Regions from separate parts of the Homo sapiens genome. Here all the other regions are linked to region 2. Evidence: fine-mapped expression QTL. A gene starts in region 2. Each other region holds a variant in brackets. All regions are shown on one strand. Distances are between the middles of the regions.

Region 1 (8,184 bases), 110 kb after region 2:
TCCAGAATTATAGTGCTGAAGCTATGGAAATGGTGAAATTATATGTAATCTGCAAAACAATGTGGCTATAACGTGGTAATTGGCCTTCCACATAATTAAAGGAACATTTCCTCATCAGAGCTGTTCCATCAGAGACCCAAAGGCTATCGTTGTACAAATCACCTACTTAGGAAAACCTTTATTCCCAGTAGCCTATAAAAATCTGGTTATGCAAACAGATTTGCTTATTCAGTAACATTAATGGCTTCTCATAGTTAAAAAGTCATCAATGTGATTGACCTATAATCTGTTTCCTCTGTGACCAAGTGTCAATTTTATTTTGACAGTTAGGAGCCTTTTGACTCTTTCACAGCTAGCATGAAGGCACAGGGAGGGAAATCTCAAAAACCAACAACCTGTGTATTCCCAGCCTATTAATCAATAGAAAATCACTTCAACTGGATTAGGGTCTTGTACCTGGAAGAAAGGCTGTTATGGACATTGGAATTGGATTTTTACACTTGATATGACACCTCCTTGAGTCAGATCAGATTCGTGTTTGATAGACTCTTGCCGAAAAATTGCTCCAGGGTCTGTGCGGTAGCTAAAGCCTTTTTGTTGTTGTTGTTGTTTTAAAAGCAGCATTAAATGTTTTCATGAAGACCTTCCCAGCAGTGATGTTATTGGGAATATGGTCTTTAGCTCTGGTCCTGAATAACTCACACTGAGGAAACCTCTAACAAGTGTTGTATTGGAAGATGTCTGATGGATGGTTGGTTTTAATAACAAATCTCTTCCCTTTTTCTGTCCCCTGTGTTCTATTCTCCTTTCTCTATACATTATTCTGGGAGGATTCACCTATTCCCAAAGTCCTTTCCTCTTTATTTCCATTCCAGAGCTCTCTGTATAACTCCAGGCTGATGAATCCAATGGCCCAGTTGTTATCTCTATTTGACTGTCTTTCTTGCATTGACCTCATCTTACCTTGCCTCTCCTGATTTCCTCTTCTGCCTGGGCTCAGCACGTCAGATTCACACCACCATCCACCCAGCTTCCAAAACACCTGGGCCTCCTCCTTCGTTCCTCCCTCTTTCTCGTCAAGTTAGTCTACTGTCTCTTCTCCATCCTCACTGCCACAGCCTTGGTCCAGCCAACCAACTTGTCTCACTTGGCTTATTGCAGCCTACTACCTGGTCTACTCACCTCCCACTCTCCTCCAGCCAGACTGCTCTTTTTATAGCACAAAGTGGATCATTACTCCCCTGCCTAAAAACATCTACTGTCTCCCTTTGTGTACAGGATAAACACGACAAAGAGCCTTTAAGATTTGGCTCCAACTTACCTCTATATTAGTCACTTTTTATAATTATATGAACATCTCTCAGCTCCTCACCCTCTCACGTCTCGATTTTTGCACATGCTCTTCCCCCTGCTGGGAATGATCTTCCACACCTCTCCTATCGACCTGGCTAATTCCTACCATTTTCTAGTCTTCAACTGAGGAGTCCTGTGGTGGAGAAGGATTTCTCACCACCTGATAGAGATTGCATGCCCACCCACCTCCGGGCTTTTATTTATTTATTTATTTATTTTTTTGATGGAGTCTCGCTCTGACCGTGCAGGCTGGAGTGCAGGGGCACGATCTTGGCTCACTGCAATCTCCGCCTCCCAGGTTCAAGCAATTCTCTCACCTCAGCCTTCTGAGTATCTGGAAATACAGGTGCCCGCCACCACATCTGGCTAATTTTTTTGTATTTTTAGTAAAGACAGGATTTCACCATGTTGGCCAGGCTGTTTTTGAACTCCTGGCCTCAAGTCATCCACCCACCTTGGCCTCCCAAAGTGCTGGGATTACAGGCATGAACAGCTGCACCTAGCCAATCGGGTGCCTCTTCTATGTGCTCCCATTGCCCCAGACATACTGTCACCATAACTTTTACCATTCTGTGTTGAAAATGATTTTTTTTTTGCTTTTTATTTCTCTCACTAAATGCAAAGCTCATTGAAAAGAGGACAGTGGTTGTTCACTATTGTACTCCTAACCTTTGACTCAGTGTCCTGAGGTTGGCTCTAGAGCTGTGCACACATGTTCAGACATTGGAGCACATCTTGTCTAGCACCTCTTTTTAGGTGACTTAGAGAAAAGTCAGTAGGTACTTCCCCAAGGATGAAACAGAAGCTTCACCTAAACCAGTTCTTCAACTTCAGCCTGCATTAGAATCCTCTGAGAGCTTGTTAAAAATCCAGTCTCCTAGAGCCCACTCTTCAAGAGTCCGTGAGTTGCTTCATCATCAATATATATATAGAATTCAGGCAGTCTTCAGCGCCAGCCTGGTCTGAGCCACTGTGGACTCCCACCTGCAGAATCTCCCTGCTGGTCTCCTTGCTTCTGCTCTTACCTTCTTATTACCTATTCAAGTAGCCAGGGTGATCCTTTTTAAAATTTTTTTTAACTTTTTTTTGAGATGAAGTCTCACTCTGTTGCCCAGGCTGGAGTGCAGTGGTGCTATCTCAGCTCGCTGCAGCTCTACCTCCTGGGCTCAAGCCATCCTCCCACCTCAGCCTCCTGGGTAACTGGGACCACAGACATACACCACCACACCCGGCTAATTTTTGTATTTTTTGTAAAGACACGGTCTTGCTATGTTGCCCAGGCTAGTCTTGAACTTCTGTGTGCACCCACCTCAGCCTCCTGCATTTTGAGGAGGCCCCTCTTGTAGGGATTTTGATGCAGACGCCTGGGTGCCTCATGTCTCCTCCCATCTCTCTCTGTCTTTCTGTCTCTGTCTCTCTCTCTCTCTTTCTCTTTGCCTTATTGCTGCCCTGGGGACTAGACTCTGCCTTAGGCATCCCTCTGAATCTTGTTTGCTTTTACACTGAGGCTGCTTTAAATTGCACCTTGATCTGAAGCCTTGGGCTTCTGTTCCTACTCCTTGCTTTTGTTGGAAGGGCCATGCAGCTTCTTGACAAATTGCAAAGGTGCCCACGAGTTTCCAAGTCCCCAAGAACCAAACCAGATGACAAACAAAGATGCAGCCCACAGCTGGAGAGACAGATTTCATGTCCACACAGAGACTCGAAGATGCTGAACTGAAATCCACCCCGAAACCTGCTTTCTCTCTCATTTAAGTTCAATGTGAACTGGGGGCTTGCAAGGCAGGGCTGGTGACCATTCACAGGGCAAAGATGCTTTGAAATGGCAACTGAGAATGGTGTGGTGGTTGACAGATGGCACGTCAGAGCATAGATTAACATGAAAAGAGAAACTCACCCCTTGGGGGGAGTGTGTGAGGCTGGCAGCCACACAGAGGGCTTTTCCTGCGAGCTCTTGCATAGATGCAAACAGCCAGGAGGTTTTGCTTTCTGAGCCTGAGTGGAAGCATGTTCCTCCCTGCACATTGCCGCTCTGCAGCAAATGTTTATTCCTGTTGCATTGATTAAAAGTGCTTACCAGGCCGGGCGCGGTGACTCACGCCTCTAATCCCAGCACTTTGGGAGGCCGAGGCAGGCGGATCACAAGGTCAGGAGATTGAGACCATCCTGGCTAACACGGTGAAACCCCGTCTCTACTAAAAATACAAAAAAAATTAGCCGGGCATGGTGGCGGGCGCCCGTAGTCCCAGCTACTTGGGAGGCTGAGGAAGGAGAATGGCGTGAACCCAGGAGGCGGGGCTTGCAGTGAGCCGAGATTGTGCCACTGCACTCCAGCCTGGATGACAGAGCAAGACTCCGTCTCAAAAAAACAAAGTGCTTACCGAAGGGGTTTGAGGGCATTGGTGACAGTGTGAGTTATGGCTCTGCCGGCTGCCAGTGGAGCCAGCCGCTCTGCACAGCTGTGCAAGCATGTTTTGAAAAGTGGCTCAGCTGGCCAGGAGTGACTGGCTGTAAATATTGCTGCCACAACATCTTGTAGCCTGATTGGGGCCATGTTTGCAGAACCCCTAAACCACTACACTTGTTCAGGCTTAAAAATAAGCTTACTTTTTTTTGTTTGTTTTGTTTTGTTTTATGAGATGGAGTCTTGTTCTGTCACCGGGTTGGAATGCAGTGGCATGATCTCGGCCCACTGCAACCTCTGCCTCCTGCGTTCAAGTGATTCTCCTGACTCAGGCTCCCGAGAAGCTAGGACTACAGGCGTGTGCCATCATGGCCAGCTAATTTTTGAATTTTTAGTACAGACGGGGCTTCACCATGTTGGCCAGGATGGTGCGATCTCTTGACCTCGTGATCTGCCCGCCTTGGCTTCCCAAAGTGCTATGATTACAGGCGTGAGCCACCGTGCCTGGTCAAACATAAACTTACTTTCTTACCCCTTCTCCTGAACTCTATTTGCTTCTTTTCTCAACTTCTGCTGAACTCTATTTTGCTTCTTTTTCCTGGATAAAGCTCTTCTTTATCCAGAAGAGCTTTTAGCAACAAAGTTACCCAATGCCCTTCCCTAGTCTCTCCTTGCAACTGGCTCTCAGCGGATGGGGGTGGGGAGGGGTGGTGGGTAGGAGGAAATCCTTGACAGAACCAATTTACATGACTGTTTGGAGGACTCTCGCTAGCCCCAGGAGGTGTTTGCATTTTTAAATTGGTTACTAGTGTCAGAATGTTTCATGAGTAAGAGCACAGCCTCTAAGTTGGATACCATGAATTTAAATCTCAACATGGCCATTTTGTATATAACCAGAGGATGGATTTGGGGACCCAATGGATCTACCATGACATGAACTTGCACCAACATTCACCTGACC[A/G]CCAAAATGCCTATTCTGTCTGGTAGATCCTAGTCTCGCCCTAGTGCCAGTTCAGAGCCTGTGTCCAGTGATCCTGCACTGGTCTCATTAGTTCCTTTTCTCCTATTCAGTCATCCTGGTAAAAGGCTGTGTATTCCCTTGGGGGCAGGCTGGGAGAAAGATTGACAGTATTAATTTGTGGCAGTGGAGCAGAGTCCTTTCTGGAGGGGACCTGGCTTCCCATTCAGACAAGGGACTCTGGGTCTGTGAACTGGCTTATATCTGGGAATTGACTGGGGACTGTGACTCTGTTTTTAGGATTCAGATTAGACTTCTGCTCACCTGACCTAGAACTCTTCTGCAAACACAGATCCAGTAAAAATGTGGCAGGCTTCTTATCTATTTCACTTCTAGGAATGCCACGATCAGCTGGCACCATAGGTCTCTGCGAGTCAGGCTATTCTGGTTGCAGCTTTGACTCTGCTGTCTTTTAATGATAACTGCATCCACCTTGCCTTTGGGGACTGAGTGCTCTGATCACTTGGTCCCAGCCTCTGTAGTGTGCCTATGTCACTTACCCTCTTTATACCTCAGTTTCCTCCTCTATAAAATGGGCATCCTAATAGCACCCACCCTCAGGGCTGCTGTGGGGTATAGATGGATTAGCATATGGAAAGTAATAGAAGAGCATCTCAAAGTCCATGTGTCGTTATCAGAATTATTTCATGATAGGGAGAGCTGGAGGAGGGAGGAAGGTGCTGAGCAGACCCATGTGCTCTGCCACCAGTGTTTCCTGAGCACCTACTGTGTGCTGCCCACTGTGAGAGCTGTTAGGGTTGAAATAGAGAGCACAGCAGGGTAGGGGCTGCCATCAGGAGCTTAGTTGGGGAGACCATTGTGCAACATGGTTCCAGCTCTTGGGGTGGAGAAGCTCAGGGGCCTAGGATCCTGGGCAGAATCTGGGGAAGGACACAGCCTCCCCAGCCTCTCCTGCCTCCTCTGCCTCCCTGGCCTCCTCTGCTTCTGTGGCCTCTCCTGCCTTCCTGGCTTCCCCTTCCACCCCGGCCTCCCCAGTCTCCCCTGTCTCTCCTGCTTTTGAGGTGGGCCAGGAGCTGCTGGTGCTCACTTAGCCTGTCCTGGACTCTGGGTGTAGCACCTCCATGTCCAGAAAATACCCCCGAGTTCAGCTCATCACACAGCCAAGGAAGGAGCTCCACACTGACACTAAGGGTGCATCCTGGGCTCCTTCATCAGGGCATGCCTCCAAAATATTTCTCCACGTCTCCTCCCTTTGCCCACCTGCATTGTCTCTGTGCCTCAGCCCCGGCTGGGGGCCTGCAAGGATCCCCTATCTCCTCTGCCCCTGCACGGCTGGGTCCAAGGCCATCTGTCCACCCACCACACCTCTCTCACCTTGCCCACCACGCTCCAGCCCCACCGTCCTCTTTCTGCTTCTTTCCCAGCCTCTGGGCTTTTGCACACGCTGTTCCCTCTGCCTGAACACCCTCCACTGGGCTGAGAACAACTCTCTGAGACCTCTCTCAGCTGTTGCTTCCTTTGGAACAGCCGCTGCTGCTGTCCCTCTCCCAGCTCCAAGACCTGCTGAGCCTCCTGTCTTTTTTAGTTCCCATGCACCCAGCACTTCTCCTTGGCCTCCTTTGGCCCAATTGACAATGTCCATTCTCAATGCCTTCTCACCCAGTGCTGAGCCCCACTGGGTGAAGGCAATGCCTGTCATGTTCACCACAATATCCCCTCCCCCATCACCACGCCTGGTCCACAGTGATGCTCAGAAAAGATCTGTTGGTAGGCAATGCGAAGGTGCATTCATGTCATCCTGCAGGCGGAATTCTCCACGAGTTTTGAGCAGCCTCGGTTTTCCCACCACCTCCAAATCATGGAAGACACAGGGTAAGAGCAAAGACAAGGTGGCTGTGGCCAATGTCCACCCTCTCGGGGCGTCCCTTCTCTTCCTCCTCCTTGAGCAGGGAGACCATCGGGGTGCAACCTGGCTGGGGTGGCGAGGAGGTGCAGGGCCTGGCCAGAGCGGGCCTGGCCACGGGCAAGGGACAGCGACCTCCTGGGCCAGGACGGGTGAGAGCGGCGCAGGCCCGGGCCCGGCGTGGTGGCGGTGCGCGTGAGCGGCCAGCAGAGGGCGCCAGAGGACCACGAGCGGCCCGCGGAGGAGCCCGCGCCGCCCCGATGCCCAGCTCCGCGCCGCGCGGACCCACCGAGCCCGCGCTCAGACGCCCCAGCTCCGCCGAGAGGCCGCTTGCGCAGGCTCCTTCTTCTTCCGCAAGTGTAGGCAGAGCCCCCGGAGCCATGGCCAGCCCTTCCCGCAGCTCCGAAGCCACTGGCAAGCCCCGAGGCAGGGATGGCCGGCCCAGGAGGGAGGAGGACGACGTCCCTCCCGAAGAGAAGAGGCTGCGGCTCTTGCTGGAGGGGGGAAGCGCACAGCCCCAGGACGGCGAGGACGGGGAGGACGCGCCGCGGCCGGGCAGGGTGGAGACCGGCACCCAGACAGGTGGCGACGGCAGAGGAGTAAGTGACGCGGGCGCGGGGGTCCGGGGGTGCCGGGTGCGCGGGGATGCGGGGAACGAGGGGTAGGGGCGGCGAGAGGCTCCGTGGCCTGCCCCGGGTTGAAGTTGGGAGGGCGGCCTTCATTCTGAACCCATTTAGGCAGCACGGGCAGCCCTCCTCGCCGTGGGCTGCATCAGAGCCCCCCCTGCCCAGTCTTGGGGTTGCTCCCGGATGCTGTCTGGGAGGCTTGGTCATGGTGACATCCTCATCTCCCCGTGCACGTTACCGCATTCGGAGCTTGGGTCACCTGGACACTGAACTCAGGCGAATTTTCTCTGAGATCCCGGGAGAAGGAGGACAGTTCTTTGGAAGGTTTTGCAGGGCCGATCACGGAAAGGATGAGAAGGGAGAGGTCCTGGTCGGGGACACAATTACAGTGGCAGTGTAACACCAGGAAACTTTATTGCGTGAAGTCCTTCTCACTCCCTCTACCTCCTTCTTTTACGTGGACTCTGCCAAAGACCAGGATACCAGAATGCAGTGGAGTGACCAAGTGTAGTGGGATCTTGGGAACGCGAGTCTGGAGCCAGGCGGCTGGGGTTTGCATCCTGGTTCTGCCCCTCCTTAGCTGGCTGACATGGCACAAGCCACTTACCCTCTCTGAGCCTTACTGTCTTCAGTGGCAAATGGATCTGTCAACGGGCCCCATTGCCTGGGGTTGTTACTGCTGAGATTAAGGGATGCTCGTCCATAGAAGCACTTAGCGTTGTGCCTGGCACATAGTGTATGGTGGATAAATGGGACTTAGGACTAAAACTCATGCCTTGGTGTGTTTTTGCAGTGATGTTTTGTTCTGGGGTGCATCACAAGAGACAAGGTTCCTGGCCGGGCATGGTGGCTCAAGCCAATAATCCCAGCACTTTGAGAGGCCGAAGGGGGACGATCGCTTGAGCCCAGGAGTTTAAGA
Region 2 (8,184 bases):
TTCCTGGTTCACTACTGACATTCCTTCAGTCAGACTATGAATTTGAACGAAAATGGAAATTAAAAAAGAAATTATCTTACACTCTGTACCTTCAGCACTTTTCAGTTCTGATTTCTCTTTGATGCATTTGAGCTTTGCATGGTGCTCTAACTTGTGCACTCCTGTGCCTCTCTTACAGCGTGAAAAGTTGTGATGAGTCACTGTCAAGGATAAAAGCAAGTTAGGTTTCTTTTTCTATATAACCACTAATTAGGGAAATAGGGGCTGACCTTCCTAAATTTTCTCTTATCCTAATAATTAAGGCCCTCATATTCTCTTTTCTTTCTATGCAGCTTGTTTGTTTCAGCTCCAGGTGAATTGGTTGAAAGCAATTGTTGAAAATTAATATTTTTATTATCATATTGTCCTTTTTTTTTCTGAGACGGAGTCTCGCTCTGTCACCCAGGCTGGAGTGCAGTGGCGCGATTTCGGCTCACTGCAAGCTCCGCCTCCCGGGTTCACATCATTCTCCTGCCTCAGCCTCCCGAGTAGCTGGGACTACAGGCGCCCGCCACCACGTCCGGCTAATTTTTTCTGTTTTTAGTAGAGACGGGGTTTCACCTTGTTAGCCAGGATGGTCTTGATCTCCTGACCTCGAGATCCGCCTGCCTCGGCCTCCCAAAGTGCTGGGATTACAGGCGTGAGCCACCGCGTCCGGCCCGTTTTGTTCTTTACGGGAGAAGTTTTGCAAACTTTTATGTGCACATGCTTGCAAGCATGTTTTTCTATCAAAATTTGTGTTAGAATAGGGGTTTTTGGTGCGCGCTGGGTTGTATGAACCTTATGCATTTCTAAAATACTTTCACCTTGAAATATATAAACAAATGTACCCTTCCTGGACAGCACACACCGGGGCCTGTTGTGGGGTGGGGGGAGGGGGGAGGGATAGCATTTGGAGATATGCCTAATGTTAACTGATGAGTTACTGGGTGCAGCACACCAACATGGCACATGTATGCATATGTAACTAACCTGCACGTTGTGCACATGTACCCTAAAACTTAAAGTATAATAAAATAAATATAAATAAATAATAAAAAATAAACAAATGTAAAAAAGTGGAAAACAGTTTAGCAAATTATTGTAAGGTGAACACTCCAGGTAACAACTACTCAGCTCAAGAAACAGAATATTGCCAAAACCCCAGATAGCCTTCACATCTCAAAGGCAGCTCACTCCCTCGCCTTTATAGGTAACCACTCTCCTTTACAGGTAACCACTCTTGGCTTTTAAAGTAACCGCTGTGCTTTGCTTCACAATTTTGTCACTTACTAACATGTCCCTATAGATCAGATTTGCCTGTTTTTGAACGGCAATCACACAGTATGTATTCTGATTCTGTCTTTTGTTGAGAATTGTTTCTGAAATTTGTCTATTTTGTTACGTGCCCGCTATAATTCATCCATTGTCATTGCTGTAAAGTGAACTATTGTCTTCCTGAAACAAAATATATTTATCTATTCTACTCCTATTAGATGTGTGCCTTGTTTCCAGTGTTTGGCTACTGTGAACTATGCTCTTCTGAGCATTTTCAACCATGCATTTGGAGCACATAAGCATGCGTTTCTGTAGGGCACATACGTAGGAGTGGAACTGCAGGCAATAGCGTACGAATATTGTAAACTATGATAGCGGTAAACTTTTCCAGAGTGACTGTAATGCTTAAACTCCACCAGAAGCAATTCACTAGAGGTCCATTTGCTCCATGGCATCATCAATATTTAGTAGTGCCAGACTTTTTATTGTTGCCATCCTGTTATGTTTGCAAAGGTGTCTCACTGTGAGTTGCATTTGCATTTCCCTGATAATTAATTAATGAGGCTGGCACTTTTGTGTGTTTATTAGACATTTCATTTTTCTCTTTGTTTTAGTACCTATTTAAGACTTTGCCCAGTTTTTTTATTGTAAGTATTTTTCCTACTGGTTTGAAAAAATTTGTATATAATCTACATGTGAATTATTTATTAATTATATGCATTACAAGTATCTTCTCCTATGGCTTTTTATTTTCACTGTTACTGGTATGTTTTGTTGTACAGTAACTCATTTTAATGTAGTATAATTTGTCAATGTTTATTTTCTAGTGCATTTTGTGGCTTGTTTAAGAAATCGTTCTCTACCTCCAGGTCATGAGGATATTCTCCATTTATCTTCTTAAAACTTTATTGATTTACTTTTCACATTTTGGACAATAATCTGCTCTAGATTTGTTTTTGTATACAGTGTGATGCAGGAGACCAATTTCATCTTTTAAATATAAATAATCAATGGGCTCTGCAACATTAATTGAACAAAATTGTCCTTTTCCCATATGTCTGAGATATCTTCTTTTGTTTTATATAAAGAGTCTTATATACATGCAGGATCTGTAACCAAGCTCTCCTTTATTTTCCTCTAGTCTATTTGTCTTGCACCTATATCATATTACTTTAATTATAATTATTTTATGTTTGATATCAGAAAGAATTTTTTTAATGGTGGTGATGGTTTCAAGGGTGTATACTAATCCCCCAAATTGAGATGTATACATTAAATATGTACAGGTTTTCATATGTCAATCGTACATCAATAAAGAGGTTGAAAGAAAGGAAAAAAGAAAGAAAGAGAGGGAAAGAGAGAGAGAGAACAATTCTTCCAACCTTGTTCTTTTCAAAGCCAGTCTATCTGAAAGTTATTTTTCTTCTGCTTACTCTTTTCTCATAAGATGTATCCCTTTGTGATCCCAGTCCAAAATGGGGGGAAATTTGCTATAGTAACCAACTTTTACATGTACAGAAAATGGTCTAAATTCCATCAATCAATCTCTATCACAAGGTACCACCATTGAAAGACAGAAGGTCAAGAATGTAGCTCTGAATATTCAGTGCAAGACCCTGAAGATATTATAGATAGGTTATGCTAGGAAAAATCAAGATACCAAAAGGCTTAGAGCAACTTCAGAAAAGTTGTTTGGAAATAATAATTCAAGAAGAGTTCTACTTTGGCTAATAACTTACCCAAACAACTTGCAATAAAACAGACACTGAGAAGTAAGATGAAAACTACAGCAATAACCGAAGGTATCAGCTGGGGATGCATGCCTCCTTCCACTAGGACCAAAAGAAAAATAGAGATTAACCTCCTCTCAGCTACAAGCTAGGAAAGCTAATTCTACCAAGGAGCAATCTAAAAGTGACAGCAAACCAAATATTTCAGATCTAGAGAAGAGCATAAATATTTTCTCCAAATAAATCAATTTTAGAGCTTATTGATGAATAAATAAATAAGAAAGAAAAATGTAAAATTTCTTGGTAATTTTGAAATGAAAAGAATTTTATAAGTAAGATACAAAACCCAAGAGCCATTAGAATAGATAATTTGAGTACATAAAAATTAAAACTTCTATATAACACAAGCAATGTTAGAGTCAAGGAACGTATGAAAGGAAAGTCTTCTCATAATATTAATATCCGCACTGGATAAAGTATTTCAAAATCAACTAGAAAACTGAGCAAAACTCTGAGCAGGAAATTTGCTGAAATTTTAATTTGCTGAAGTTATAAATAGCCACTAATCAAACAAAAATATGCCCAATCAGGGAACTGTAAACGAAAAGATTGTGGTATAACTTTTCACACATCAGATTTTTTAAGTAAATTAAGTACATGCAGTGTTGGCAAGGCTGAGGGGAAATAAGCACTCTTAGTGAGAAAATAAATGCTGCTGCCTGGACTGGAAAATTAGGAATGCCTTTTAGAAGGATCAATTTAGTGGCATTTATCCATTTTTAAATGCATTTCATTTGCCACAATAATTTCAATTACAGGTGTCTATTCTATAGAAATAATTGAGCTTGTTTATGTTAAAAGATATTCATTGCAGTACTTCTCAAAATAGAAAACACATACTGTAATCTAATATTTACATGTATATTATCAATAGTGGAAATTCTAAATTATGGTCCCTTCACACAATGATATTCTGTATAGTAATTAAATAAGCATGTAATCAGTATATATTGATGCAAAAAATCTCTAAGAAATATTGTTACCTAAAAAGGTAATTCAATAGGATCACACTGTGATTACAGTTTGCCATGGTAGGGTGATGAGATAAAGTAAAACTTTAATTTTAATTTAAACATTTCCACACTTGTTCTATATATCTATCAAAAATATTATTTAATATTATCACAATACAAATCCACTGGTGTCACTTAAGTCAAACATAAAATGGGACAGTTAGAGCCTCTGATACAGCATAAGCCTAAATGCTTTTTCTACATCTTCCTTTTCTCTTTTTTCTTTAAAAGAATCTTCTCATATTACTCTCTTTCTTTTCATCTTATTTCTCTTTTATATATTTTATCTCCCCTCTTGGTCCAATATACATTTTATAAAGAAGTTTCTGTTATCCAACTTATTTGACTCTATGTCCTTCCTCTTCACCAACGTCATTTTTATTTCCTTCCACCTCCTTCTCCCCGTCATCATCAACAATCTTTAAAACTACCATCAATTCATATGTTTTAAATTAGTATAATTCCATCTGCTTCTTTGAAATGGAAAGGAGAGAAAGTACTCACGTTTACTTTGAGGTTTTTCTAGCCCCATTGTCTAATTAGTCTCTTGTTCAATGGTCAGGACGGCAAGAATTTGTTCTATTTTTTTTCCCCCAGAGTATATTTCTGTGGATAGGGGAATATATTCAGAAATACTTGAGATCGAACACCAATGTTACATATTGTAGTGAGATTAGAAAGGTACCAGTATAAGAAAGTTAGCTCAAAAGAAGTCTTTTTCAAAGACAGGGGTTTCCTTTGATACATTCCGGGAGATGAGGCGAAAAAAAAAAAAAAAGGAAATTGAGAAAGCAATACCAAACAACAGTTAGTAGAAACCCACAAGTATGTTGAGATCACTAGATCAGTGTGAAATGTGGAATTTCTCAATTTGTTTTTTTTTTCATTTAGACAAAAAATTTAGCAACGCCCTAAAAGAAATAATTGTTATGCCCAATAAAAATTTAGTAAATGTCCCCTCTTTTTAAATTCTTTTTGTGAATATTATATTTTCAAAGGCAGTTATATTCTTGGGGTGAGTTCTATACTAAAAAGTTCTCTGGACTGAATAAAAAGTTGAGTCTAAGAGAGCAAAAGACAATGTGAACAATGAACAAAAACTTTTAAAGTATACCTTGTGTGTACATGGCATGTGAAGACACAGCAACCTTTGTTTTCGAGTTGAGGAAGAGATGATAGAGCAGTTAATTAAATCCCAAGAACTTTCTAGGTGAGCAAAAAGAGTTGTGTTAAGGCAAAGACAAAGAAAATGTAAGATTCTGTGATAAAGACACCATCAGGGTCCCTGACTTCATTTATAGCACTGTTAGGGAGTGAATGTCTGTATCTCCTCAAAATTCATTGGTGGAAGCACTACCCTCCAACGTAATGGCATTTGGAGGTCAAAAGTTTGGGAGGTAATTAGGTTTAATATGAGGTCATGAGAATGGGGTCCTCATGATGGAATTATAAGAAGAGACCCGGCTAACGAGCTGTTTACTTCCTGCGGGTGCTCAGGCTGTGGCCATCTTCCTTGCTGTTGCTCTTCTCATTGGAGAAGATGGCCCTGGAGACGGTGCTGAAGGACCTGTGGCATCTGTGGGCCTGTTTGCTGTGTTCACTGGTCAAGGTACTATAGACCAGTTTGAATATGATGGTTGTGACTATTGAGATGCATATCTACAGATGAAGGGTAACTGAGAGATGCTATATGGCTGCACCAGCTCCTCCTTTGATGGAATCATTGCGATGATGAGTCCAGAGGACAGCTGGGTCTCCAACTGGCAGCGAGTCAATAACTTTAAGCCAGGTGTATATGCGGTGTCAACCACTGGTCGCTTGCCCTAAGGAATCGTGCGGGAGCTGAAAAGTTGAGGAGTGGCCTACAAATCCAAAGACACAGCTATAAAGACCAGACGCAGGGCTGCCAGCGTCTTTGCTCTCCACCTCCTGCCTCTGCTTATTTTTTGTTCTGGAACTAAATGGGCAGAGCTTCAAATGCTTCCTACCCTCCAATTCAGACTCAGCCAACTGTTGAGAGAACAGCACATCATTTTATCATTTTACCTTATTTGGACTTCAGGTGGGGGTGGGAGGGATTTGGGTTGGTGGATTAACAGATGGAATTGAGGAGAGAGTAGGATGCTGACTTTCCTACCTGTAGCCCAAGGCTGCGCCTTGCTCATGAAGAGGTCTAGGTCAAATGTCAATAAATAGAAACCTCTAGAAAGTTCTTAAGGCCATGACACCTGCCTCGCTTCCCTCTTCCTTTCTCTTAGGCACACAGTAAGAGCTTATTTGCCCTATAAGATACCTTCCCAGAGCAGCAGAGGCCCTTCCACTCCCTCTTGACTGTCTCAGCCTCCAGGATTGCAGCCTTTGTAGTGTGCTTCCTTGCTTCCTATCAGAAGGTGCTGTCCAGAGGCTCAGTAACCCCATCAGCTTGGTGGCCCTGGTGTCTTGTGCTTGTATCCTTCTGCCCTTGAGACCTGGCACAGCAGTATCCCTTGAAGAAATCCTGAGGCTTTGTCGTGCTCCTTGCTCCTTGACCATGTTTAATAATTCTTTTCCCCCTCTGCTCGTCAGTTTTCTTCTCTTTACTGCTCTTCCTATATCTTAGGCCAGTCTCACACACTCACATTTTACATTTTCCTTACTGGAGACCCTTGGGCCTTGGCCGACTGCTGGGTCCTAGTCTGCCTTGTTTGTGCCCCTGTAGGAGGCAGGTCCTTTTCTCCGCCGGCCCAGTAGGGGACCTTGGGTAACATCCCATTTTTCGGCCAAAGTGAGTTATTTGTTTTAGGATAAAAAATTTACTACAAATTCTCATTTACTTAAATTTCCACAGAAATCCTGTTAGTGTCCCCATTTTGATTTCCCTAAGTTCCTTGTTCTCCCTCTGTAAAAAAAGAATGATTACACCTTGCCTGTTTACCTCAGGAATGTTGTGATTGTAGAAACGAAGCTATGTGAAAATTATGCAGCCATAAAAAATGATGAGTTCATGTCCTTTGTAGGGACATGGATGAAGCTGGAAACCATCATTCTCAGCAAACTATCACAAGGACAGAAAACCAAACACCACATGTTCTCACTCATAGGTGGGAATTGAACAGTGAGAACACTTGGACACAGGAAGGGGAACATCACACACCGGGGCCTGTTGTGGGGTGGGGGGAGGGAGGAGAGATAGCACTGGGAGAATGAGGAGTTAATGGGTGCAGCACACCAACATGTCACATGTATACATATGTAACAAACCTGCACGTTGTGCACATGTACCCTAGAACTTAAAGTATAATAAAAAAATTTAAAAAAAAATTTAAAAAAAGAGAGAGAGAGGAAAAAAAAAGAGAGATGAGTTCTCCAGAAGGCAGTCATCTGCAAGGCTAGTAGAAAGCCCTCACTGGTAAAGTGGTTAATTTGACAGGACTCCAAGAACAAATTTACATGACCTGAAGGAGGACACTTTGGGATTCATCACAGAAGCCACATAACCTACAGAGAGCAAAGAAGAGCGACACAGAGCAGCTGCCCATCCAGGATTGCCATGGAGCCAAGGGAGGCTCCCCACAATGGGGAAATGATGAGTGACAGTCCCTAGGGACCCACACTTCTGCCATGCTGGCACTCTGATCTGAGACTTCCAGCTATTAGAACGGTGAGAAATAAATGTCTCTCTTTCATACCACCGGTCTATGGTATTCTGTTATAGTGGCCCAAGCTCACTAAGACAAGTACATAACAGCTTAGAGATCCTTTAAGAAAGATCTCTACAATTTCCAGAATATAGCCCTTTCCCTGAACTCTTCCCTAAGCTACAATATTACTTTAATGATATGTGTGTATATATATTCTGTGATCTTCAGTGAAATATTACTTTACTATGTTAAATTGGGGATGGGAGGAGGTAAAATTATAGATTTGGCAATCCATATATTTTCCGGCACCGCCAGTCACTACAAGAAGTATTCCAATAGCAACAATAGCACTAACCCACAAACTCGGATATGCAACCCTGGAAACTAGATTTTTGGTTAAAGTAATATTTATTTCTATCAAAAGGACCTGGGACTCCTAGAGAATACATAAATCCTGCTTAGAAC
Region 3 (8,184 bases), 27 kb before region 2:
TCTACTGTCACACCTAAACCTGCCAATGAAAAGTGAAAGGGAAATATAATTAAATACAGAAAACTTGCAGGTGATAGTATGGCCAGAAGTAGATACAATCATCCCTTGGTATCAGTGGGGGATTGGTTTGAGGACCCTGCTTTGAATACCAAAACCTGTGGATTCTCAAGTCCCTCATATTAGTACGGTATTTATGAATGAAATTAATGTATGATTTTGTCTCAGTCCAACTAGAATATATTTTAAAAATGAGCATGATGTCTGAATGGCGGACTCTTTCCTTACCCAAACCATTGGAAAAGACTGCCAATCTTCTCTTCATCCTGTTTTTAATTGGACCTGCTAGATGGGAACCCTTAGAATTGCTTAAGCACATTCAAATGATTATTTTAAAACAATATAGGATGGGGGGTTCAGTTTTAATTAAGAATAGGCTGGAGGAAGAATTTCAGCTTTAATTAAGAATAAGTTAGACACAGTCATGTTAATGCCCACAGATTCCCTGTTTAATAATCCAGTATGGCCTAGAAGAAAACTTGGTGGATCCTGGAGATGAATTGTATGTTAGAGAGGACTGAATAAAATCATGCTTCCAACAGCATCAGCTGTACCCAAGATGGCATCACAATTCAAGCTTTGCTAAAAGCTAAAAGACAGTAATATTCTGTTATCTATTTGCCTAAAACCTTATTTTCTATCTCTATTTAGGGAGAAAATCAAAGCTAATACACATTCATGTGGGATGGATTCCAGTATACATTTGCTATGTTCCCATAAGGTTATTTAAATTCTCCTTTTTATCACGGCACTTGGCAAGAAGATACTTAGATGTGATCAATTAGAAAGTAATATTATTAACTGCATTAATGTCATATTAACTCAATTTGAAGATCTAGCAAAGATTGAATTACTGTATAATGCTTGTTAATCATATGAGGCTGATTAACCCAACTAAAGAACAGGGTCCAGGGGAAATGGTAAAATTCTTAGGCATCACCTGGACAGGGGAGATGAGAGGCATCCCTCAGACAACCAAAAATAAGTAATTGTCTCTGCCAGCTCCAAAATGAAAGCAAGAGGTGCAAAGATGTTGGCTTGTTAATGTGGTGGAGAAATGGCATACCCCTGTTAATAAAGTTATCAAGAAAAAAGCTAAATTTGACTGAAGTTTTGAGCAAGATAATACATTTGTATTTTTTTTTGTTTTATGTTTTTGGAAATTAAAAAGCCCTTGTAAAGCCCTGTGGGGCCCCACGAGTCCCAAACACAGACGATTTAAGAAGTTTCTGCAGCACACAGTCAAGCCATGCTGACTGGAGCCGCTGGCAAAAGCCTGTTACTGCCACCTAGTGGCTGCCTGTGGGATTTTTGTAATAAAAAGCTACCTGGCTGCAGCTTGAAGTAGCACCATTTAAAAGGAATTGCTAGCTTGTTACTGGGTTTTAGTTGAAACTGCTTTTTGTACTGAAGGACATAAAATTATTTGAAAACTCATAACATCCTATTTATATCATATCATCATTCCAACAAGAAATGAAATGCACAGAATTCCCTCCTTGAATAGAAAGGAGATACTCAAGAATGTGAAATGGGGTTACCCAATGCATGCACAGTCAGGTGGCTGACAGGTCACCATAAATTTGGTTCCCCTGAGGAGTTGGCTAAACCTATAGCTGAATAGGCCCCTCTCTCTGGTCAGCTGTCAAGGCAGCAGTGTGGCTTACAGATAGATGGCAGTTCAAGGGTAAAGGGCTGGCCGTCAACCTGGGAAGCAGCAGCCCTGGGATCAGTTAGTGATTGCATGTTAGATGAAAAGACAAAAAATAAATCTGCCCCAAGGCTAAAATTGAGTGATGTTTCTCTTGGCATCAAAGAAAAGTAGATACTAACAATACTCGTATGGCATAGATGTTTACAGCTTTTACTGATTCTTTTTCAGTTGCCTGAAATATTGACAGGCAATATAGTTTAGAAAAGGGACTTAGACGATAAGTTCCTGGATGATATTTAAAAAGGGAAATCAAAGAATCTATTGCTGAACAACAGGTGCTGGAGAGGATGTGGAGAAATAGGAATGCTTTTACACTGTTGGTGGGACGTAAACTAGTTCAACCATTGTGGAAGTCAGTGTGGAGATTCCTCAGGGATCTAGAACTAGAAATACAATTTGACCCAGCCACCCCATTACTGGGTATATACCCAAAGGATTATAAATCATGCTGCTATAAAGACACATGCACACGTATGTTTATTGTGGCACTATTCACAATAGCAAAGACTTGGAACCAACCCAAATGTCCATCAATGATAGACTGGATTAAGAAAATGTGGCACATATACACCATGGAATACTATGCAGCCATAAAAAATGATGAGTTCATGTCCTTTGTAGGCACATGGATGAAGCTGGAAACCATCATTCTCAGCAAACTATCGCAAGAACAAAAAACCAAACACCGCATGTTCTCACTCATAGGTGGGAATTGAACAATGAGAACACTTGGACCCAGGAAGGGGAACATCACACTCTGGGGACTGTTGTGGGGTGGGGGGAGGGGGGAGGGATAGCATTAGGAGATATACCTAATGCTAAATGACGAGTTAATGGGTGCAGCACACCAGCATGGCACATGTATGCATATGTAACAAACCTGCACGTTGTGCACACGTACCCTAAAGCTTAAAGTGTAATAAAAGATAAATAAAAATAAATAAAAATTAATCCCCCCCCCCAAAAAAGAAATCATTAAGCATGGTCAACTTTAGAAGAATGCACTAAGGATAGTTAAGAAGGCTTTTACTTGTCACATGCTTTTCATAGTATTAATCATAAAACATATTACTCGTATAATTTGGGGAAAATCAATGAAACAAAAGATATAAAAACATTTTGGCTGGAAAAAATATTAATTTATTGATTTCTGTTTAATTGTATATTGATAAAAATTAACATACAATTGTTTAGTAATATTGATGGTTGCTGGTTGATTGTAATTAATAAAAGATGGACTGTGGTAATTATGTTCATCATTTTATAATTCATATAGCTCATCCACTAGATAGTTTCTCTTTTTTTACTGATCAAAAGCTATTTGCTGAGAATACACATATTAAATATGGGTATATTCTATAATATACACATATATAATTTAAAGATATTTTTAAAATTGTATTACTATAAAACAGAGAATGCAGAGAAAATTGACCAGTACCTTGAAATAATAAAAAGTCCCTTTGAGAACAAGAATATTTTCTCACACATGGAAAATTCGTGAGTCACTGGATGTGGGGATTTACCAAGTCATGTACATCATACTTATGCCTCCTGACTCGTGAACTTAAATAAACTGAGACCAGTGTGATCTTATTCTTAAGTATCTTTAAGTAAGGAGAAGGCACATATCTAACTATTCTTCCAGAGAAGCATTAATTCTTTTTTTTTTTTTTTTTTGAGACAGAGTCTCACTCTATCGCCCAGGCTGGAGTGCAGTGGTGCAATTTTGGCTCACTGCAACCTCTGCCTCCCAGGATCAAGCTATTCTCCTGTCTCAGCCTCTCAAGTATCTGGAATTACAGATGCGTGCCACCACACTTGGCTAATTTTTGTATTTTTAGTAGAGGTGGGGTTTCACCATGTTGGCCAGGCTGGTCTCAAACTCCTGACCTCAAATGATCCACCCACCTTGGCCTCCCAAAGTGTTGGAATTACAGGCATGAGCCACTGCTCCCGGCCCAGAGAACCATTAAATTCTAATATCTAATTGAAATTGCTTTTTCTGACCTTCAAATACATTTCTCCTACTGTAGGCTGTAACATAGAACTAAAATCCCCAAATAATTGAGAACAGGAGAATTAAACTGCCTGCTGGGTCTCTGAGACTTCAGAAGCTGCGTTATGTTGTGAAAAACTAAGCTGAGTTTCAAAGTGGTCTAATCACATGAGGCTGTCCTGCTGAGGGGGACTCTAGTAGTCAGCCTAGTAGTAGCAGCCTAGTAGTCAGCATAAGATAAGAGGGACATAAATCCACAACATTAGAATATTCAAGAGCTGCAAATGAAGAAGAAAGAAAAACCATAAAAGATGAAAAAGAGGACGGGCGCGGTGGCTCACGCCTGTAATCTCAGGACTTTGGGAGGCTGAGGCGGGCGGATCACGAGGTCAGGAAATTGAAACCATCCTGACGACCACAGTGAAACCCCGTCTCTGCTAAAAATACAAAAAATTAGCCAGGCGTGGTGGCGAGCGCCTGTAGTCCCAGCTACTCGGGAGGCTGAGGCAGGAGAATGGCTTGAACCCGGGAGGCGGAGCTTGCAGTGAGCGGAGATCATGCCACTGCACTCCAGCCTGGACGACAGAGCGAGACTCTGTCTCAAAAAAAAAAAAAAAAAAAAAGATGAAAAAATTCAGGTTGCCATGTCCTAAATACATACACTATATGCCCAGCTTTGTGCTATGTTGTCTAAGTCTTCTTTTCAGTTACCAAATGTGTGGATGGTACAGATCCAAAGTGAAATTCAGAGTGCAGAGGTGAGCTCCATATTGTCAAGGAAAAACTGGGGGATGAGTTATGCCTTGAAGAAACTAGAGACATTTGGTCCAACGAAACGAAACAACATTTAAAAAAAAAACTCTCCTGTTTCCCCATGGCTAGCCTATTTGTGTTGATGCTTACCATTTCATAATTTCCTCATTTTGTTGTTACATGGAGTGAAGAGAACTGACATGCTGTCCAATAAACTTCCTTGTCCTCCTTATGCAAGAAAGGAAATCCTGACTTAATGCGTAGCCACAGAACAAGTTAATATTCTACATCTATCGGAGCTGAACTTCCTAAAAGACAAAGTGTTTATCTTTCAAGATTCATTCTCCCTGAATCTTACCAACAAAACACTCCTGAGGAGAAAGAAAGAGAGGGAGGGAGAGAAAAAGAGAGAGAGAGAA[A/G]CAAAAAACCAAAGAGAGAGAAAAAATGAATTCATCTAAATCATCTGAAACACAATGCACAGGTAAAATCTGCAACTCTTCCTTTCCTTCCATAGATCTCTTTTTGGAACAAGTGATAAATATGGTGAAAGACAGGACAATAGAAAAGTATTCACTGAAGTTAAAAAAAAAAGTGGGGGGACAGAGGAAGAGAGAGAGAGAGATTTAAAGACTATTTCTTATACCAGAAAGCCTGCTGGCCTCTAGCTAAGGGAGAGCTATCAGTTTCCACCCTTTCTGCAATACATTGTGTCCCTTTTGGCAAGTCACTTCACTTCTCTGGAACTCTCTTTGTCTGTAAAATGTTTAATGGGAGGAAGAGAGGAACTATTAGATGACTGTTAACATTTTACCTAATTTACAAAGCGCTTGAAAAGTGAGACACAGAAAAAAAAAAAAGATCAGGAGAAGGACAAGAAAAGCAAAGACGAGAAAAGGGAAAAGAAAGAAAAAGAAAGAAGGGGGGCCTTAGAAAATACTGAAAAAAATTTAACTGAGAGACTTAGAAAGGAAAAATTGTATATCTGAGTTCATGAGTCAGAGTCTTACTCCAGGGGTGCTAAACGTGTGGTCCTCAGACCAGCAGCAGCAGTAGCCCCTGGGAACTTGTTGGTTCCATACAAACTCTACTGAGTTGCTAACTCTGGGGGTAAGGGTCAGCAATCTGTGTTTCCATAAACCCTCCAAGTGATTCTGAAGCATGCTGAAATTTGGGAATTACTCAGTACAAACAATGGAAGTAGAAGGAAATAAGTAAGGATGAATAAGAATCTCTTCTATCTCTTTTGTACCTTGCTTAGGGAAGATTGATCATGTTTGTGTCTTTCTTTCTACAGAGAGAGGATGCTTCTCTTCCCAAATGTTCTTATGGACTGTTGCTGGGATCCCCATCCTATTTCTCAGTGCCTGTTTCATCACCAGATGTGTTGGTGGGTTCTGAAGGTCAAATTCAATTTAATTCTTCCTGGTGCATATTAGGAGAAAACTCTTCCATGCTGCCTGTAGACTCTCTTTGCCCTCAAAGGGTCTTTCTATTTCACCCTTTTTTTTTTCCCTATTAATCTCTAGGTTATTTCTCAAACCAGAAACCTCAACAAGCAGGGAACTGTTTCTGAATTTTAATCACCTGTGACTTACTTTTCATGATAGACATTTTTCACTTCCTTGGCAGTCCTGAATCCTCCTCTTTCAGCCTCTATCATTAGTGTAACCTTCTCTAGGAGAGTCTGCCTTAGAGCTTGAACTACTGGTCGGCACCAGAGATATGACTAATTACTTTTGGAAGGAAGGGTAGAGAGAGTTGGACTTGGCATAAGAGGTAGTGCAAACATATCTATTTTCTCTGGGTCGTAAGAAAAAGCAGATTGTAAGAAAAAACATGATAATTATTGGCACTTTTGTTATAAATACAAAACTGAGGGAACTGACATTTTTAACCGAAATAAGACTAACAAACATTATGCCCTTTCTTTTACAGTGACATTTCGCATCTTTCAAACCTGTGATGAGAAAAAGTTTCAGCTACCTGAGAATTTCACAGAGCTCTCCTGCTACAATTATGGATCAGGTATAATAGTCCCAAAGGTGAACATCAAAATTTACAAAGCAACATTTTCTGGCTTCTAGATTGACTTTGGGACAGGTGAGATATAGCTGGATTAGGTCTTATTTTTCAAAAGCAAAATGTAAAATCCTAGAAATTTGGTGATGCAATTAGCATTGGGGCAGAAAGTCTTGGGGACATTATAGTAAACTTTTAGAATAAATTTGAGGGGTATGTCTGAACAGTAAATCTGGAAGTGGAAGGTATTATTCCCAGGAGTGTACCTTTTTTTTCATTCACCTACTTCCAAAATGAGATGGAGAAAAAACGTATGGAGTAGAGAATTTATAAATATCTCACAAATATACTCTCTATGCTCTTCTATGTCATCCTGTTGCAAGTCCTAGCAAAATGCTACATGACACTAAAAAAGTGACTTCCTTCTCTGAGCTATAATTTTCTCACCATTAAATTGAGAGAAGTTAGAAGAATTATTTATAATAGACCTCAAAGGCAAAAGTTCTGTAATTCTAAGAAATCTAACTGTAGGGACCAGCCCCACAGGGTTGGTGGGTCTCTCCCTGTGTCCAGAGACGAGAGCATGTAGAAATAAAGACACAAGACAAAGAGATAAAAGAAAAGGCAGCTGGGCCCAAGGGACCACTACCACCAATGCGCGGAGACCGGTAGTGGCTCCGAATGTCTGGCTGCGCTGTTATTTATTGGATACAAGGTGAAAGGGGCAGGGTAGAGAGTGTGAGTCATCTCCAATGATAGGTAAGGTCATGTGGGTCACGTGTCCACTGGACAGGGGGACCTTCCCTGCCTGGCAGCCGAGGCAGAGAGGGAGAGGAGACAGAGAGAAAGACAGCTTACGCTATTATTTCTGCATATCAGGGACTATTAGTACTTTCGCTAATTTACTACTGCTATCTAGAAGGCAGAGCCAGGTGTACAGGATGGAACATGAAGGCAGACTAGGAGTGTGACCACTGAAGCACAGCATCACAGGGAGACGGTTAGGCCTCCGGATAACTGCGGGCAAGCCTGACTAATGTCAGGCCCTCCACAAGAGGTGGAGGAGCAGAGTCTTCTCTAAACTCCCCCAGGGAAAGGAAGACTCCCTTTTCCTGTCTGCTAAGTAGCGGGTGTTTTCCCTTGACACTTAACGCTACCGCTAGACCACAGTCTGTCTGCCTGGCCACGGGCGTCTTCCCAGACGCTGGCGTCACCGCTAGACCAAGGAGCCCTCTGGTGGCCCTGTCCGGGCATAACGGAAGGCTCGCACTCTTGTCTTCTGGTCACACCTCACTATGTCCCCTCAGCTCGTAGCTCTGTACGGCCTGGTTTTTCCTTGGCTATGATTATAGAGCGAGGATTATTATAATATTGGAATAAAAAGTAATTGCTACAAACTAATGATTAATGATATTCATATATAATCATATCTAAGATCTATATCTGGTATAACTATTCTTGTTTTATATTTTATTATACTGGAACAGCTCGTGTCCTCTGTCTCTTGCCTCAGCGCCTGGGTGGCTTGCCGCCCACATCTAACCCATCTATATACTACAGTATGGAGATTTGATTGAGGATACATTGTTTAGGTAACATAAGAGATGGCTCTTTGGGGGTCACCCAAATAAAATGCATAAAT

What was found. PIP is the estimated chance that this variant, and not a neighbour inherited with it, causes the effect.
Region 1: its variant is fine-mapped to the expression of CLEC4D in whole blood (INTERVAL, PIP 0.98).
Region 3: its variant is fine-mapped to the expression of CLEC4D in monocytes (TOPMed, PIP above 0.99). The same link has a PIP of 0.9 or more in blood mononuclear cells and whole blood.

The regions. Positions count from the first base shown.
Region 1 is chr12:8,395,477-8,403,660 of GRCh38, reverse strand. No RefSeq gene overlaps it. Among named protein-coding and RNA genes, the nearest start is that of LINC00937, 8.8 kb to the right of the region's middle. RefSeq lists enhancers at 5,427-5,926, 5,927-6,428, 6,721-6,770, 6,891-7,150. The variant A/G (reference allele first, on the strand shown) is at 4,719.
Region 2 is chr12:8,510,180-8,518,363 of GRCh38, reverse strand. CLEC4D (C-type lectin domain family 4 member D) reads right to left here and starts at 4,861. Exons shown (of 6, transcript NM_080387.5): 1 at 4,604-4,861; 2 at 3,036-3,128; 3 at 90-200. The coding sequence starts at 4,631. It also overlaps the pseudogene SUPT4H1P2.
Region 3 is chr12:8,537,581-8,545,764 of GRCh38, reverse strand. It overlaps CLEC4E (C-type lectin domain family 4 member E), which reads left to right and starts at 4,860. Exons shown (of 6, transcript NM_014358.4): 1 at 4,860-5,004; 2 at 5,818-5,910; 3 at 6,459-6,548. The coding sequence starts at 4,968. The variant A/G (reference allele first, on the strand shown) is at 4,943.